Regions from separate parts of the Homo sapiens genome. Here region 2 is linked to region 1. A link means that fine-mapping ties the variant in region 1 to the expression of a gene that starts in the linked region. Tissue or cell type: whole blood. Region 1 holds a variant in brackets; the other region holds the start of a gene. All regions are shown on one strand. Distances are between the middles of the regions.

The links. PIP is the estimated chance that this variant, and not a neighbour inherited with it, causes the effect.
Region 2: it holds the start of CD300LF, and the variant in region 1 is fine-mapped to the expression of CD300LF in whole blood (TOPMed, PIP above 0.99).

The regions. Positions count from the first base shown.
Region 1 is chr17:74,678,470-74,686,616 of GRCh38, forward strand. It overlaps a transcript of RAB37 not described here. Among named protein-coding and RNA genes, the nearest start is that of RAB37-AS1, 4.9 kb to the left of the region's middle. The variant G/A (reference allele first, on the strand shown) is at 4,254.
Region 2 is chr17:74,709,397-74,717,543 of GRCh38, forward strand. It overlaps CD300LF (CD300 molecule like family member f), which reads right to left and starts at 3,527. Exons shown (of 7, transcript NM_139018.5): 1 at 3,428-3,527. The coding sequence starts at 3,470. It also overlaps a transcript of RAB37 not described here.

The DNA of each region.
Region 1 (8,147 bases):
GCTTATCAGCGCCTTTTCATTTGCTTATTAGCACCTTCTCATTTGCTTATTAGCAGACAGTTTCTACCCATCAACATGAGGATGCTATTTAATCATTTGTGCTTTTGCAAATGCACATGCTTTTAGGTATCTGAAACCAAGCTGTGCTTAAGTTCAAATTTTCTCTTACTTGCTAGCCTTCTGCCCCTGGCCACCACACACACAGACACACAGACACACACACACACACACACACACATGCCTGCACATGCACACATACGCACCCTTCCTCTCATGAGCTGTGGGCAGGGCCAGTGATCATCCGTTTTTGTTCTCTGTCTCCCCTTAGCTTTTGTTATGAGCCTTTTAAAAGCAAAGCAGGCTGGGTGCAGTGGCTTAGTCCTGTAATCCCAGCACTTTGGGAGTCCAAGGCAGGCAGATCACCTGAGGTCAGGAGTTCAAGATCAGCCTGGCCAGCATGAGGAAACTCTGTCTCTAGTAAAAATACAAAAATTAGCTGGGCGTGGTGGCAGGCGCCTGTAACCCCAGCTACTTGGGAGGCTGAGGCAGGAGAATCACTTGAACCCGGAAGGCTGAGGTTGCAGTGAGCCGAGATCGCACCACTGCACTCCAGCCTGGGCAACAAAGCAAGACTCTGTCTCAAAAAAAAAAAAAAAGGCAAAGTAAACATTTCTCCTCCTCTTCTTCCTCCCTCGCCTGTTTGAATTTTGCATTCATACCCTCTCCCAGCAACTCTGTTTATTAAAAATCGGAACTGTCATTTATTAGAGCAGTACCCCTAGGGGAGAGTCAGGAACTGGTAACACCTTCCCCAAGCTCACAGTGAGAAGCAGTGTAAGCTTTGGAAGGGAATAAAGTCTGGTACACAGTCCAGATGAGGCAGACACCCCCTTTCAGCCCCTGGAGTCTCCCTCCTCGCCTCCCCCATGCCTTTACCCAGATCCTTCCTCCTTCTCTGGGTCCCACCTCAGGTTTCATTTGGTTATCAGGTAAGAAATATTAAAAATCATCTCTGCACTATAATCCAAAGGGACCCAGTAAGACTAATAATTGTTCCCAATACATTATCCAAATAAGCATATGGTTTATTTCTGCAGCACTTTACAGTTTGCGAAACACTTTAATATATGCCAAGACATTTTATACTTAACATATGCTTTTTCCAGAAGATGTTACTATTAAACTAATTAATGTCCATATTAATAGGACAGGGAAACAAAGGCCAGATGGCTGGGCATGGTGCTTCATGCCTGTAATCCCAGCACTTTGAGAGGCTGAGATGGGCAGATCATGAGGTCAGTAGTTTGAGACCAGCCTGGCCAACATGGTGAAACCCTGTCTCTACTAAAAACACAAAAATTAGCTGGGTGTGGTGGCGGGCACCTGTAATCCCAGCTACTCAGGAGGCTGAGGCAGGAGAATTGCTTGAACCCAGGAGGCGGAGGTTGCAGTGAGCTGAGATTGCGACACTGCACTCCAGCCTGGGTGACACAGCAAGGCTCTGTCTCAAAAAAAAAAAAAAAAAGAAAGAAAGAAAGAAAAAACTGACTTGCTCAAGGTCATAGCCAGCATTGTGGAAGCCTGAATCATTACAGCAGACCCTTAGATAGCACTTGCATGCCATGTAATATTCTAAGCACTTAGCATCTCTTAACTCACTTAATCCTACAACAAACCTATTTTAATCTCATTTTACAGATGAGTAAACTGAGGCATGGAGACATTAAGAAATTTGCCTATAGTCAAATCCAAGCAAGGTAGACAGGCAGAGGGATAGAGTCAGGAGAGGACAAGGGGCTTCACCAAGAGGGTCACAGATGGTCACTACTTTAGGGCATTGACAGCAGTCCATTGTGTGGCCTTCAGCTCTGTAGAGCTGGTTTTGCTCACTCACTCAAGAGTGGCTCCATCTCTCCAGTCAGGCTGATGTTAATCAGACTCACAAGACATGTATTGCCCTAGATGCCAAGCCACATTATAATCAGGAGATTTTTTTGTTCGCTAAGCATGAAATCCAGGGGAAAAAATGGAACTTGGAGGATTCAAATGTTTAATGCTATCAGGCTGACATGAGTTGGTAGCTGGCTACACTATAGGCACAGCCTCAATCTACGACCCCACTGGCCCCTTCTACCCTTAGGTCCTCTCCCCTACCCCTTGCCCCACCTCTGCCTCCCTCAGCTGTATATATTTAACTGCCTTGGGCCGGACAGTCATTCTATTCTCTCCAGGTCTGTATTTCCTGCAATCCTTTAAGAACTCCTTGCCTTTGAGCTTGAGAATTCCCTGGACTTGACCTGGTTATGGGGAGGGAAAGGGAAGGGATGTTCCGTTCATCATCGCCAGAGTTGTCATTTCATACTTCTTCCTCCATCTCACTCAAGGCCTGTGTCAGAGCCTTAGGGACTTGGATTTCAGGGGCAAGAACCATGGAAGAGTAGAAAGGTGATTGGGGACATTTCCTTATACCCCACCACCACCCCTGTTCACATGCTCCCCTTGAAATCTGATATTTCTGCCTGAGAATCCTGAGAATCAATTCAGCAAATATTTACTGCGCACCACATGCCAGTCCCCAGGAACAAAACCCACTCTTCATTCCCCAAGGAGCTGCGTCCAGCAGGCTGGGTGGATCAGAGGGATGGCACAGGCAGAGATGGCTCAGGCCACATCTGACTGCAGCTCAGTGTGCCACGTGGACCTTGGTGCCCATGAAGGTCAAAGACCTCTAGTCCCATATAGTGGGAAGCTGAGCCCTTGGGGACCAGGTCAAAAGCTTGCAGCTCTCGAGGCTGCCAACTTCTGGCTCCTGGCTGATTGACGGATCTGAGGGGTTATAAAGCCCAAAGTCCCAGGATGGGGCCCCACCTCTGAAGGTCAGAGGGCTCTGAGCCCCTCAACACAGGGATCCCTTCAAGCCCATGTCCAAGAAAGGAAGAGACTCCTGTTGCACTTCTGAGAAGTGCCCAGTGCAAAGACCCCTGTCCAATTGTGGCAGAGTCCAACACATAGAAACTAAGCTGGATCCCTTCCATGACCATCTCCAAAGACATGGGCTGAAAAACACTCAACCAAACCCAAAACACCAGGATCCCAGCCCTTGGGATGACAGTGTGGCACACAAAGAGAGGCTTGGGAAAACAGAGGGGCACGCCACGTGAGCTCTGCAGGCATGTCCTCCAGGACCCTCACTCTCCTTTCCCTGAAACCAGGTCTCCTCCAGACAGCAGGCACATGAGAACCAGCATAGCATAGGCCCTGACCATCACCTGTCCTGACCACCACCTGTGCTGTCTACCACCTGTCCTGTTCACCACTGGTTCCATCCACCACCTGCCCCATCCATCACTTGTTCTGTCCACCACCTGTCTTGTCTACTGCCTTCCCTCTTCACCCTCATCCTGTTCACTACCTGCCCTGTCCACCACCTGTCCTGACCACCTTCTGCCCTGCTCACTGATTTTCTTAGAGTAGGAGGCAGCTCATTAGCAGAGAAAGAGAACTGGGCTTTGAGTACCAAAGAACCAAGCTTTATCCCTGTCTCTGCTGTTAGCCAGCTGTACATTCTAGGTCATTCCATTCCAACAGCACTTTCCAACTTGCAGAAAACTTGCATATAAATCATTTCGGTTGAATTCCCCAGCACTGTGTGTAAAGAGAACAGGCATTATTCTTGACTGCAAAAGGGGAAATCTTGTGATCAGGACTCTCGATTTCCAGTGACAAAACCCAACTCAAATTGGCTTAAGCCGAAAAGAGAACTCATTGGTTCCTGTACCAGAGAAGCCTAGGGAGTGCAGCTGACATCGAGCTCAGCTGGTCCCAGGGACTCTCAGTGACTTCGGCCTCACTCTCTGTCTCTCTCTCTCTCTCATTTTTCTCTCTGGCTTGGCTCCATTCACAGGCAGGCTTCTCCCCGTGGGGCCCCATTATTGACAGCAGCCCCAGGATCACATCCTCACAGCTCCCAATTCCAAACAAAGTCCTAGACCCAATACTCACTGGAGACTGAAATTGCCACATGCCCACCCCTGAACCAATACTATAGCCAGAGGGTAGAACATGATGGACGGCTTAAGCTCGGGTCACATGTCCACCCCGAAGGTGGAGTCAATCCCACCCAAGCCCTGTAGATCAAGAGTGGAAGAAAATGGGCCGGGCGTGGTGGATCATGCTTGTAATCCCAGCACTTTGGGAGGTCAAGGCGGGTGGATCACCCGAGGTCGGGAGTTCAAGAACAGCCTGACCAACAT[G/A]GGGAAACCCCTTCTCTGCTAAAAATACAAAATTAGCCGGTTGTGGTGGTGCATGCCTGCAATCCCAGCTACTCAGGAAGCTGAGGCAGGAGAATCACTTGAACCCGGGAGGCGGAGGTTGCGGTGAGCCGAGATTGCACCATTGCACTCCAGCCTGGGCAATAAGAGCGAAACTCCGTCTCAAAAAAAAAGAGTGGAAGACAATGGTTTCCAGGGAAAATGGGATGGTGTCATCTGGAGGCTAGCCATGCAAAAACAACAGATGTCCCATGGTAATCCAGGGCAAGGCTGAGTCCCAGCATTTTCAAATCTTTAATGAGAAGTGCCTGAAAAGAAATGAAGAGAACTTGTCACAGTCCCACCTGAACTGGCCTCTTGGTGCCTCACACATAGTGTCATTTAAGACTAAATAACTGGATTTGGGTTATTAATGACTGGACTTGGGAAACAAACTGCTGTCACCCTATGAAGCGATAGGCTTATTGGGGCTGCAGAGCCAGACCTCCCTCTATGGGTGGGAGTAGAATTTTCTCTGAAGGAAATAGATGATCCAACTGTGGACCATCCAGGGAAGAGGTTGATTGGAGCAGGGAATGAGGATTCAGGAAGCTGACGGAGCTCAGACAGGAATGAGGGGAAGCTCTTCCGCCTCTCTTAAGGACCATGGTTAGCTGCTATGGAGACGCCTGAATTTTTCCATTGCTGTGTAGGGCGTGTCAGCCCAGGGCTACATGAACACAGATGAGAAGTGAGGCAGAAAAGCACCAAACAAGGCCAACTTTATGAGTATGCCACCTACAAAGTCACATAACGCCCTGCACTTAGAAGGGCCCTGCATTTGGTTTAACACTTTGCATTCGCCATCTTTAAAGTCTTAATAATGTTTGTACAAGGACCCCTGTATTTTTATTTTATATAGCCATTCTTGCTGCCAGATAAAAACCCCTGCAAGGTCTGAGCCTGGCTCTGTGGGGTAGTTTTGAGCTATTCCCTGGGGCACCTCTGCCTTCTGATGGCCTCACACCACGCCTGGTTTTGGATGTGCCTCGAGTAACCAGGGAAGAGTCATCTTATGCTTTGGGCCAGATGGCAAAGGAGTGGGCAGCACCACAGTGGCATTCACTGTCGAGGGGTGGTTGCGTCCCCAGGACAGCATCTGCGAGGGTCACGGGCAGCAGGAAGTGTGGCCTGGAAGGCAGATCAGACAGTCCGAAGGTGGGTGGGTGGGCAAGTCCTCAGGGGTAAGTGGCTGTGACAGAGGCAGGGGAAGAAGTAGACAGGGATCATGTTTGTGATCTGAGCATTGTGCTGAAAAAACAATAAGTTCATATTGGTGGCTATTAGTGAATAATGAGAGTCATTATTTTATTTATTTATTTATTTATTGAGACGAGTCTCTCTCTGTCACCCTGGACTGCAGTGGCATGCACTCTGCCTCCTCTGCCTCCTCACTGCAACCTCTGCCTCCCAGGTTCAAGTGATCCTCCTACTTCAGCCTCCTGAGCAGCTAGGATTACAGATGTGTGCCATGAAGCCCTGTTAATTTTTTTTTTTTTTTTTAGTAAAGATGGTATTGGCCAGGCTGGTCATGAACTCCAGACCTCAAGTGATCCACCTGCCTCAGTCTCCCAAAGTGCTGGGATTATAGGCGTGAGCCACCACACCCAGCCAAGAGAGCCATTATTATTAATATATTTAATTGCAAAATTTGAAAAATGAAAAACAAAGAAAAAATTTCCTGTGATGCCAGTGTTTCAAAATACATATCTTAAAAATAAAAATGGACTGCGCACGGTGGCTTACGCCTATAATCCCAGCACTTTCGGAGGCCGAGGTAGCTGGATCACTTGAGGTCAGGAGTTTGAGAACAGCCTGACCAACATGACGAAACCCTGTCTCTACTAAAAATACAAAAAAGTTAGTCGCGCATGGTGGCGGGTCCCTGTAACCCCAACTACTCAGGAGGCTGAGGCAGGAGAATCACTTGAACCTGGGAGGCAGAGGTTGCAGTGAGCCAAGATTGTGCCACTGCACTCGAGCCTGGGTGACAGAGCAAGGTTCTGCCTTAGAAAAAAAGAAGATGAAATTGCCATGTAAAAATACATGCATGTGTTTATTTATACATATGTGTGAGATAGATAGATAGATAGATAGATAGATAGATAGATAGATAGATAGATCCATCATAGGAATTTTGTTATACACATTTTTACCTTCATTCTTTTTAATCACTACATAGAATTCCATTGTATAGATAAGTGAAAATTCATGGTTTATTCTGAAATTTTGAAACTCATAGAAAGGTACAAAAACTAGAAGAACAAAAAGAAAATGACACATGTACCTACCATCTATATTTACTAAATGCTAACATTTTGCCTTAAAAAAAAAAAAAAAGAAGGCTCCTATAGGTAGCTGGGATCCACTTTGCAAGATAGCCATGGGATAGAAGGTTAATTGGGTTACTTTGTTTTTGTTTTGATATGGAGTCTTGCTCTGTCACCCAGGCTAGAGTGCAGTGGCGCGATCTCGGCTCACTGCAACCTCTGCCTTCTGGGTTCAAGCGATTCTCCCACCTCAGCCTCCCAAGTAGCTGGGATTACAAGTGTGCACCATCACACCCAGCTAATTTTTTGTGTGTTTTTAGTAGAGACAGGGTTTCACCATGTTGACCAGGCTGGTCTCGATCTCATGACCTCAAGTGATCTGCCTGCCTTGGCCTCCCAAAGTTCTGAGATTACAGGCGTGAACCACTGCTCCAAGCCCTAGTTTGGTTACTTTGAAATCACAGCCTGATGGGTCTGCGGCACTTTTAGTTACACTCCATTTCGTAGAAGAGAAAAGAGATCTGAGAGACATTCAGTGGTTGTTCAAGGGCACTCAGCAGGGAATAAAAGAGAAACCCCAATCCAAGCTTCAACTCCAGACCCTAACTCTTCTCCTTATCCCTCCCTAGATTCCCAAGGTCCTTAGGAAAGGGAAGGCTTGGACTGGAAGCTCCCCCAAACCCCTTTATCACTGACCTCCAGAAATGCTAGTGAAGCCCAGGTGACAATCTCAGCCTGGCCCAGGATAAACACCAAAGCAAAATCAATGCCAGTGGGAGATATTCATTCACAAAGTGGATTCAAGACCCTGCGTGCAGAGCTGCTCAGATGAAGCAGGCCCAAATGCAGTTAGTCACCGTTAATTGGGTCTCAGGAGTGGAGGAGCAAACAACAGCATCCCCTGGGGATTTGCCTCCATCAACCCAAGTGCAGGGTAAGAAGCCCAGGAAAGCAAGCCAAGCTTTGCAAGCACCAGCACTGCCCCTGGGCAGACTCTCCTTCACTCTATCTCCACGTTCTCTCCCATTTGCCCTCATATCTTGTTATATTTTTTTTTTCTTGAGATAGAGTCTCACTCTGTCACCCAGGCTGGAGTGCAGTAGTGCCATTTCGGCTTACCGTAACCTCTGCTTCCAGGTTCAAGCAATTCTCCTACCTCAGCATCCCAGGTAGCTGGGGTTACAGGCACACGCCACCATGCCTGGCTAATTTTTTGTATTTTTAGTACAGACGGGGTTTCACCATGTTGGCCAGGCTGGTGTCAAACTCCTGAGCTCAGGCAACCCACACGCCTCAGCCTCCAAAAGTGCTGGGATTACAGACGTGAGCCACCAAGCCCGGCCTATTATTATTATTTTTGAGATGGAGTCTCGCTCTGTTGCCCAGGCTGGAGTACAGTGGCACCATCTCAGCTCACTGCAACCTCTACCTCCTGGGTTCGAGTGATTCTCCTGCCTCAGCCTCCCGAGTAGCTGGGATTACAGGCGTACACCACTACACCTAGCTAGTTTTTGTATTTTTTTTAGTAGATACGAGGTTTTGCCATGTTAGCCAGGCTGGTCTCTAA
Region 2 (8,147 bases), 31 kb after region 1:
GATTGTCTATCAAAAACCTCAGCAAGCACCACACTTAGTGCGAGACATTCATATGTACTTTATAATAATTTGTTAACATGGATGTTGAAGTTTTATGCACTTTTTTGTACATTTTATTTTCCACAATTAAAAAGACTTTTAGGACACCATAAACCAAGAGCCAAATTATTCTTTTTTTTTTGAGATGGAGTCTTGCTTGGTCGCCTGTCACCCAGGCCGGAGTGCACTGGTACGAACATGGGTCACTGCAGCCTCAAGTCCTGGGCTCAAGTGATCCTTTTGCTGTAACCTCTTATGTAGCTGGGACGACAGGACCACAGGCATGCACCACCATACCAGGCTAGTATTTTTTTTTTTGGAGAGACAAGGTCTCACTTTGTTGCCCAAGCTGGTCTCAAACTCCTGGACTCAACCGATCTGCCTGCCTTAGCCTCACAAAGTGCTGGGATTACAGGCTTGAGCCATCATGCATCACCAGCCAAATTATTCTTAACAGTGAAATACTATAGGCATTCCTATTGACATCATAAACAAAACATGAATTCCCAATATATATAATAACATGATTCTGGAAGTTCTTTTTTGTTTGTTTGTTTTTTTGAGATGGAGTCAGGCTCTGTCGCCCAGGCTGGAGTGCAGTGGCTCAATCTCGGCTCACTGCAAGTTCCGCCTCCCGGGTTCACGCCATTCTCCTGCCTCAGCCTCCTGAGTAGCTGGGACTACAGGCGCCCACCACCACGCCCAGCTAATTTTTTGTACTTTTGGTAGAGATGGGGTTTCACCGTAGCCAGGATGGTCTCGATCTCCTGACCTTGTGATCCGCCTGCCTTGGCCTCCCAAAGTGCTGGGATTACAGGCGTGAGCCACTGTGCCCAGCCTGGAAATTCTAATCAATATAGGAAGATAAGGAAAAACATAAAATGTATAATTATCAAAAGGGAAAAAAGTTAGAGAAAATTTTTTAATTTTAAATGAAAAAGTATTTTAATTCATAATTGAATTTAATAGAGTGGCTAAATAATAAACATGTAAAAATCAATGGCTTTCCTATAAACTGCTAATAAATAGTTGGAAAGTAAAGTAGAAAAGTGCTCATTTACATTAGCAATAAAAGTGTATTAAATTCCTAGGAATAACTTTAACAGAAACAATAAAGACTTATGGAAAAAAAGCACAGTGAGGCTGGGCGCGGTGGCTCACGCCTGTAATCCCAACACTTTGGGAGGCCAAGGCGGGTGGATCACTTGAGGTCAGGAGTTCGAGACCAGCCTAACCAACATGGTAAAACCCCATCTCTACTAAAAATACGAAAAAAAAAAAAAAATAGCCAGGCATGCTGGCACACCTGTAATCCCAGCTACTTGGGAGGCTGAGGCAGAAGAATCACTTGAATCTGGGAGGCAGAGGTTGCAGTGAGCCAAGATCGCGCCACTGCACTCCAGCCTGAGTGACAGAGCGAGACTCTGTCTCAAAAAAAAAAACAAAAAATCTGTTCTTGCCAGGCACGGTGGCTCATGCTTTTAATCCCAGCAACTCAGACGGCCAAGGCAGGAGGATCACTTGAGCCCAGGAGTTGAGGCTGCAGTGAGCTATGATCATGCCACCACACTCCAGCCTAGGCAACAGACTGAGACCCCAACTCAAAAAAAATAAAAAACCTTCCTTTCTCACAGAAAACAAACTTCCGGATGGGTATTTTTTTTCTTGGGTGTTTTAAAACGATAAATTATTTAGAAGAGGGAAACAGGGTAAGCACACTTGCTGCTTGTGGGTGGAAGTTCTGCAGGAGAGGCTGGCAAGAGCTGATGCATGCAGGTTCACAGTGGTATCCGGGCTCCATGTTGGCGCCCATAGCTGTGCCTGCTGGCTTTTCTGCCCACTTCAGACAGAGGTCCCAAACCACTCCCACTCCCAACACGACTCTCACATCTGCTCACTACCAAATTCTCTCATTTCCAGGTGTCAGAAAAAAAGCAGCCATACCTGTCCTGGTCTCACTGTGCCAATGCATTTCATAACATCTCACCCAAAGTCTGCCTTCTCCACTTACATGCTGAAACTCGGGGCCAAGTGTCCATGAGCCACTCCCTGCTCTTCCTGTACCAGCCTAGCAGTCCTGGACAAGTCACTTTCTTCCCCAAGACCTTTTCTCCAATCTGTCCCACCAGGATCTTCTGAAGCATGAGGCAAAGCCGTGCTGACCTCCCTCTTCCTCAGACGTGCCCAGTCCAAGCTCATTCCTACACAAGAGCCCTCGTATCTACTGTTCCCTGTGCCTGGAAAGCTGGTCCCGATCCTGTGTCTGATCCTTTTCCTAGGTCTCGGCTCGGACAGGCATCTGGGACCCTCTTCAGGGGGGTTGTTTCAGCCCACCTGACTTACAGCATCCCCCTACCTGGGTCCCACTGTAACATATCATCTTGTTCTGTTTTCCTCACAGTACTTATCACTTCTCACTTCTTGAAATTATTTTTTTGTTTTCTTTCTTTTTTTTTCTTTTTTCTTTTTTCTTTTTTTTTTTTTTTTGAAACAGAGTCTCGCTCTGTCACCCATGCTGGAAGGCAGTAGTGTGATTACAGGTCACTGCAGCCTCCAACTCCTGGGCTCAAGTGATCCTCATGCCTCAGCCTCCAGCCTCCCAAGTAGCTGGGACCATAGGCACATGCCACCATACCTGGCTAATTTTTGTACTTTTTGTAGAGACAGGGTTTCCACATGTTACCCAAGCTGGTCTCGAATCCCTGAGCTCAAGCAATCAGCCTCCCAAAGTGCTGGGATTACAGGAATGAGCCTCTTTCCCTGGCCTCCCTTCATTTTTAATAAAAATTGTATGCACCAACTTAAGGTGTCTCCTGCCCTCTGGCTCTGCCCACATCTCAGTCCCTCCTTTCCTCTACGTCCCTGCCAGTCTTATCTCCTCTTGACCTTTCCGTCCCTCAGCAACTTCTACTATTTCCTTCTGCCCCAAATGCCTAGAACCACCACTCCCTCTCTGCCCAGCAAACTCCCTCTTCCCTCCTTTCAAAGTCCTCCAGCCTCACCTCTTCCCTGACGCCTGCCCTTGCTCAGAACACCTCCACGCAGGTGACAGATCACCCAGTCCAGGATCAGGCAGTCGCCTGCTCTCCTGAGCAGCCCATGTTCCTCCTCTGCTTTTCCCTGGCCGGCGGGGCCTACAGTCTGTCCATTTCACATGATCAGCCCCTGGGGGTCAGGAATTCTGCCTTGCACTGGCTTCATTATGAAGGTCATGCCCTGTATTCCTGCCTTGGCAACGGAAATGCTAGGTGAATGGTGGGTATGTGGATGAAACGCACAAGGCTCATGCCATTAAGGACACCTTCTGGCCGGGTCCCTTCTTCCCTCTCTCAGCCACCTCCTCCTGCTTGCTAAGCTTCCCCAAGAAGACAGACCCAGGCCCGCTCACCTGAGAGCCAGAAGAGGAGCAGGTAGAGTGTCAGCAGGGGCATCTTCTCTTCAGACAGGTCCCCGTTCCCCTCAGTGGAGCCTGGCAGCAGGAACAAACTACAGACTCCCAGCCTTCTGCTGGTACTCACTCTCGCCCTTGAACTTCCTCCTTCAGTCACTTCCCATGGGTGAAAGAGACTAAAAGAGGAAGGAGGTGGTTGGTTGGGCACCGTGGCTCAGGCCTGTAATCCTGGCACTTTGGGAGGCCAAGGCGGGCGGATCACGAGATCAGGAGTTCAAGATCAGCCTGGCCAACATAGTGAAACCCCGTCTCTACTAGAAATACAAAAATTAGCCAGGCGTGGTGGCGCACACCTGTAGTCCCAGCTACTCAGGAGGCTGAGACAGAAGAATCGCTTGAACCTAGTAGGCGGAGGTTGTAGTGAGCCGAGATCGTGCCACTTGCACTCCAGCCTGGGTGACAGAACAAGACTCTGTCTCAAACAAAAACAAAAAAAAAAAAAAAAAGAGGAAGGAGGTGGAAAGGGTGAAATTTCGAGGCAGTTGACAATGCAAGGGGTCACAGGAATCATCAGCTTCTGAGAAGTACCTCTCTGTACACAGCCACCGTGGGTTCTCTAAAAAGAGAACTTCGTGGCTCCTCTGTCATGTGGAAACCTGCAGACAGATCCACTGGGTCTGGCCAGCCCTTATCCAATCCTCCAAACCTGGTGGGTTGGCTGGGGGCAGGGGCACGCGGCTCCACCAGAGGGGTCCTGGAGAGCCACGGCTGATAGACACGATGTCCTAAACCTGGAGCTTCAGGTGTAGCCAGATGCTTGGGAGCCCAGAAGGCCAGAAGTTCAAGAGGATTGAGGGGCACTTGTGGCCAAAGTCAGAAAGCCAGAGGAGAGATTCCAGACCAAAGGTTGGAAGGCAGCTATGAGGAGATTGGGTATCCAACCCCAGACTACAAGGCCAGGTACGGTGGCTCACACCTGTAATCTCAGCACTTTAGGAGGCTGAGGCAGGAAGATCACTTGAGGCCAGGAGTTCAAGACCAGCCTGGGCAACATGGCAAGGCTTCATCTCCACAAAAAAAAAAAAAAAAAAAAAAAAAAAAAGTCAGGCATGGTGGCTCATGCCTGTAATCCCAACACTTTGGGAGGCCAAGGTAGGCAGATCACTCCAGGTCAGGAGTTAGAGACCGGCCTGGCCAAAATGGTGAAACCCCATCTCTACTAAAAAATACAAAAATTAGCTGGGCGTGGTAGCATTCACCTGTAATCCCAGTGACTCGGGAGGCCGAGGTAGGAGAATCACTTGAACCCAGGCGGCAGAGGTTGCAGTGAACCCAGATCGCACCACTGAACTCCAACCTAGGCAACAGAGCAAGACTCTGTCTCAAAAATAATAACAATAATAATAATAATTAGTTCTGCAGAGTCATGCATGCCTGTAGTCCAAGCAATCTGGGAAGCTAAGGCCTGAGGATTACCTGAGCCCAAGAGGTCGAAACTGCAGTGAGCTATGATTGAGCCACTGTTCACTGTACTCCAGCCTGGGCAACAGAGCAGACGCTGTCTCTTTAAACACACACACACACACACACACACACACACACACACACGCACGCACAGAGAGGTTCAGAGAGAAGGGAGATGCAAGCAGGGAACTACTGGCCCACTGACAAGAGGCGCTTTGTCCTGAGAACACGAAGGAAGCTCCTACTGCTGTACCCCAGCCCACCAGGTGAGATCCCAGGGATACCTACATCTGGAATCTTCCAGAAACCTGTCCATTGTACCAGGGGGTCTACCTGAGGAAACCAGTTCATTGCTCAGGACTATTATCCCCTCGCTCCACCCCTCACCTTATAACTATTTGTTGAAGGAAGGAAGGAAGAAAGGAAGGACCAGTTTTGCCCCTCACTCTCCTCCTTCTGACAATCATGTCCATCCCCCATCTCTCCTTTCCCATCAAGACCCCAGCAAGTCCCTAGGGTCGGGACTGGGGATATAAAAGGATTAGGAAGGGCCAGACTCAGTGGCTCACACTTGTAATCCCAGCATTTTGGGAGGCCAAGGCAGGTGGATCACCTGAGGTCAGGAGTTCGAGATCAGCCTGGCCAACATGGCAAAACCCCGTCTCTACTAAAAATACAAAACTTAGCCGGGTGTGGTGGTGGGTGCTTATAATCCCAGCTACTCAGGAGGCTGAAGCAGGAGAATAACTTGAACACAGGAGGTGGAGATTGCAGTGAGCTGAGATCGCACCATTGCACTACAGCCTGGGCAACAAGAGTGAAACTCCATCTCAAAATAAATAAATAAATAAAAATAAATAAAAGGATTAGACCTTTCTCACCTTCTGCACCTGGAGCCACTTTTGCCATGTGTCACATACACCCTGTGACATCTTGACAAGGGAGTGAGTCTCAAAGAGGGACGCAACCCCCTCACACCCTAATCAGGAATGAGTGGGTGTGCAGAGGGTTATTTGCACAGAAAACCACAGCAGCTGATAAGCCATGGCTTTTCCAGGACGTGGCCAGAGATGGCTTCTCGCTTTACATATCTGCAGACCATAAAGTAGGTCAAGAATCCGGGGTGAGGGCTTGGCCAGCCCTTTGGTCCCTGCTGCATGTCAATAGGTCCTCTGCCCAGGGCACCATGCAGATACTCAGAGAGCAATCAGCCCTCTGCAGTAGGGAAGCCATTGGCTTCCAGGAAAAAGGACCAGGAATGGGGGCTGCCCTGAAAAACAAGGGGCAGATGCATCGAGGGTGGTGGGGTAAGCTTTCTTCTCCTGGGCATGAGCAACAAGGAGGGAACAGCACTGTCTGTTAGAACTGCCTGTGGCCAGACCCTCTGATCGTGGCCTCTCCCAGACCTGGCCTCCCCAAGAAGGATTCCCCTTTGAAACAAGAACAGAGAATTCAGGCCGGGCACGGTGGCTTACACCTGTGATCTCAACTCTTTGGGAGGCTGAGGCAGGCGGATCACCTGAGGTCAGGAGTTCAGGACCAGCCTGGCCAACATGTCGAAACCCCATCTCTACTAAAAAATACAAAAAATTAGCCGGGCATGGTGGTGGATGTCTGTAATTCTAGCTACTAAGGAGGCTGAGGCAAGAGAATTGCTTGAACCCGGGAGGCAGAGGTTGCAGTAAGCCGAGGTCACAACACTGCACTCCTCCAGCCTGGGTAACTGAGCAACACACTGTCTCAAAAAGAAAAAGCAGAGAATTCGCCAAGTGGTTCTGAGTAGCTGCTCCTCTAACCAAGTGCCTATGGGGAATACAGGGGAATCGGCTCTTCTGCAGGCCTTGCGTCCTCAAAAACTCATTTGAACCTGTAATCCTGGTTTGACCATTGACCTATACACAAGCCAGTTATATCCCTGGGCTTCCCTGTCCCCATATGTGAAAGCAGGGATTAGACAGGTCATCTGAGATTCTCCCTGCTCTAACGCACCTATGTATGTATGTATGTGTGTGTGTGCATGTATGTACGTGAATGGTTGAACCTGTCATTCTGCCCTGGCCTTGTGTGCTCTGCTAGGGGACTCTGTCTAGCACCTAAGAACCAGTCTCTGTTTTTATAAATCATAATTCTTCTCAGAAACCATTCCTGAGCCCTTTTAGTTCCCCTCACTTCCAATTGCACTTTATCTTTCCCAACCACTTGTGCTATGTTTCATATTTTCCATCATTATTACATTGAATCCTCACTATAAATCTAGAGGAAAGGTGATGCGTTTCTCATTTTTCAAAGAAATTGAGACGCAGAGAGCAAGTGACGTGTCCAAGGTCACATAGCTAGTAAGTGGCAGAGCCAAGATTCAAACCCAGGCCTGGTTCATATAAGCCATGCTGCCTTGTGTCAGGGTCAGGGAGGGGGCAGAGAAAGAGAGAGAGAGAGAGAGAGAGAAAACAGCCCTTAGATCCTGCTCAGTGCTGACAATGAAGAATTGATAAAGCAGAGAATCCCGGAGCTGGTTGTCACCAGGGCGTCCACTCCAAGGTTGTTTTTTAAACAAATTTCCTGGCCGGGTGCAGTGGCTCACGCCTGTAATCCCAGCCCTTTGGGAGGGCAAGGTAGGCGGATCACCTGAGGTCAGGAGTTCAAGACCAGCCTGACCAACATGGTGAAACCCTGTCTCTACTAAAAATACAAAAAATTAGCTTGGCATGGTGATAGGTACCTGTAGTCCCAGCTGCTCAGGAGGCTGAGGCAGGAGAATCACTTGAACCTGGGAGGCAGAGGTTGCAGTGAGCTGAGATCGCACCATTGCATTCCAGCCTGGGCAACGAGAGCGAAACTCTGTCTCAAAAATAAAATAAAATGAAATAAAACAAATTTCAGAATGAAAGAATGTTTTATCATGCACTGAAAACTGACTTATTAAGCAGGTAACTGATACCACCAGCCTTGAACATTTTCCAGATCTCATGCCCCTCTTCTGCAGTGTATGGAATGGGAATCTGGGCCTTACCCAAGTTCTTGTCCAGGAATTCAGGCACAGGCAAAGCTTATTTCTGAGAAAAATAGGCGTCTCCAAAGAGTGAGTCTGAAAGTTTGTGTCTCTCGAATTTCATACGTTGAAACTTAACCTTCAATGTGATGGCATTACGAGGTTGAGCCTTTGGAGAGTAACTAGGTCAGGAGAGTAACTAGGTCTCCTGAATGGGATTAGTGCCCTTATAAGAAAGGCCCCAGAGGGCTGGGCGCGGTGGCT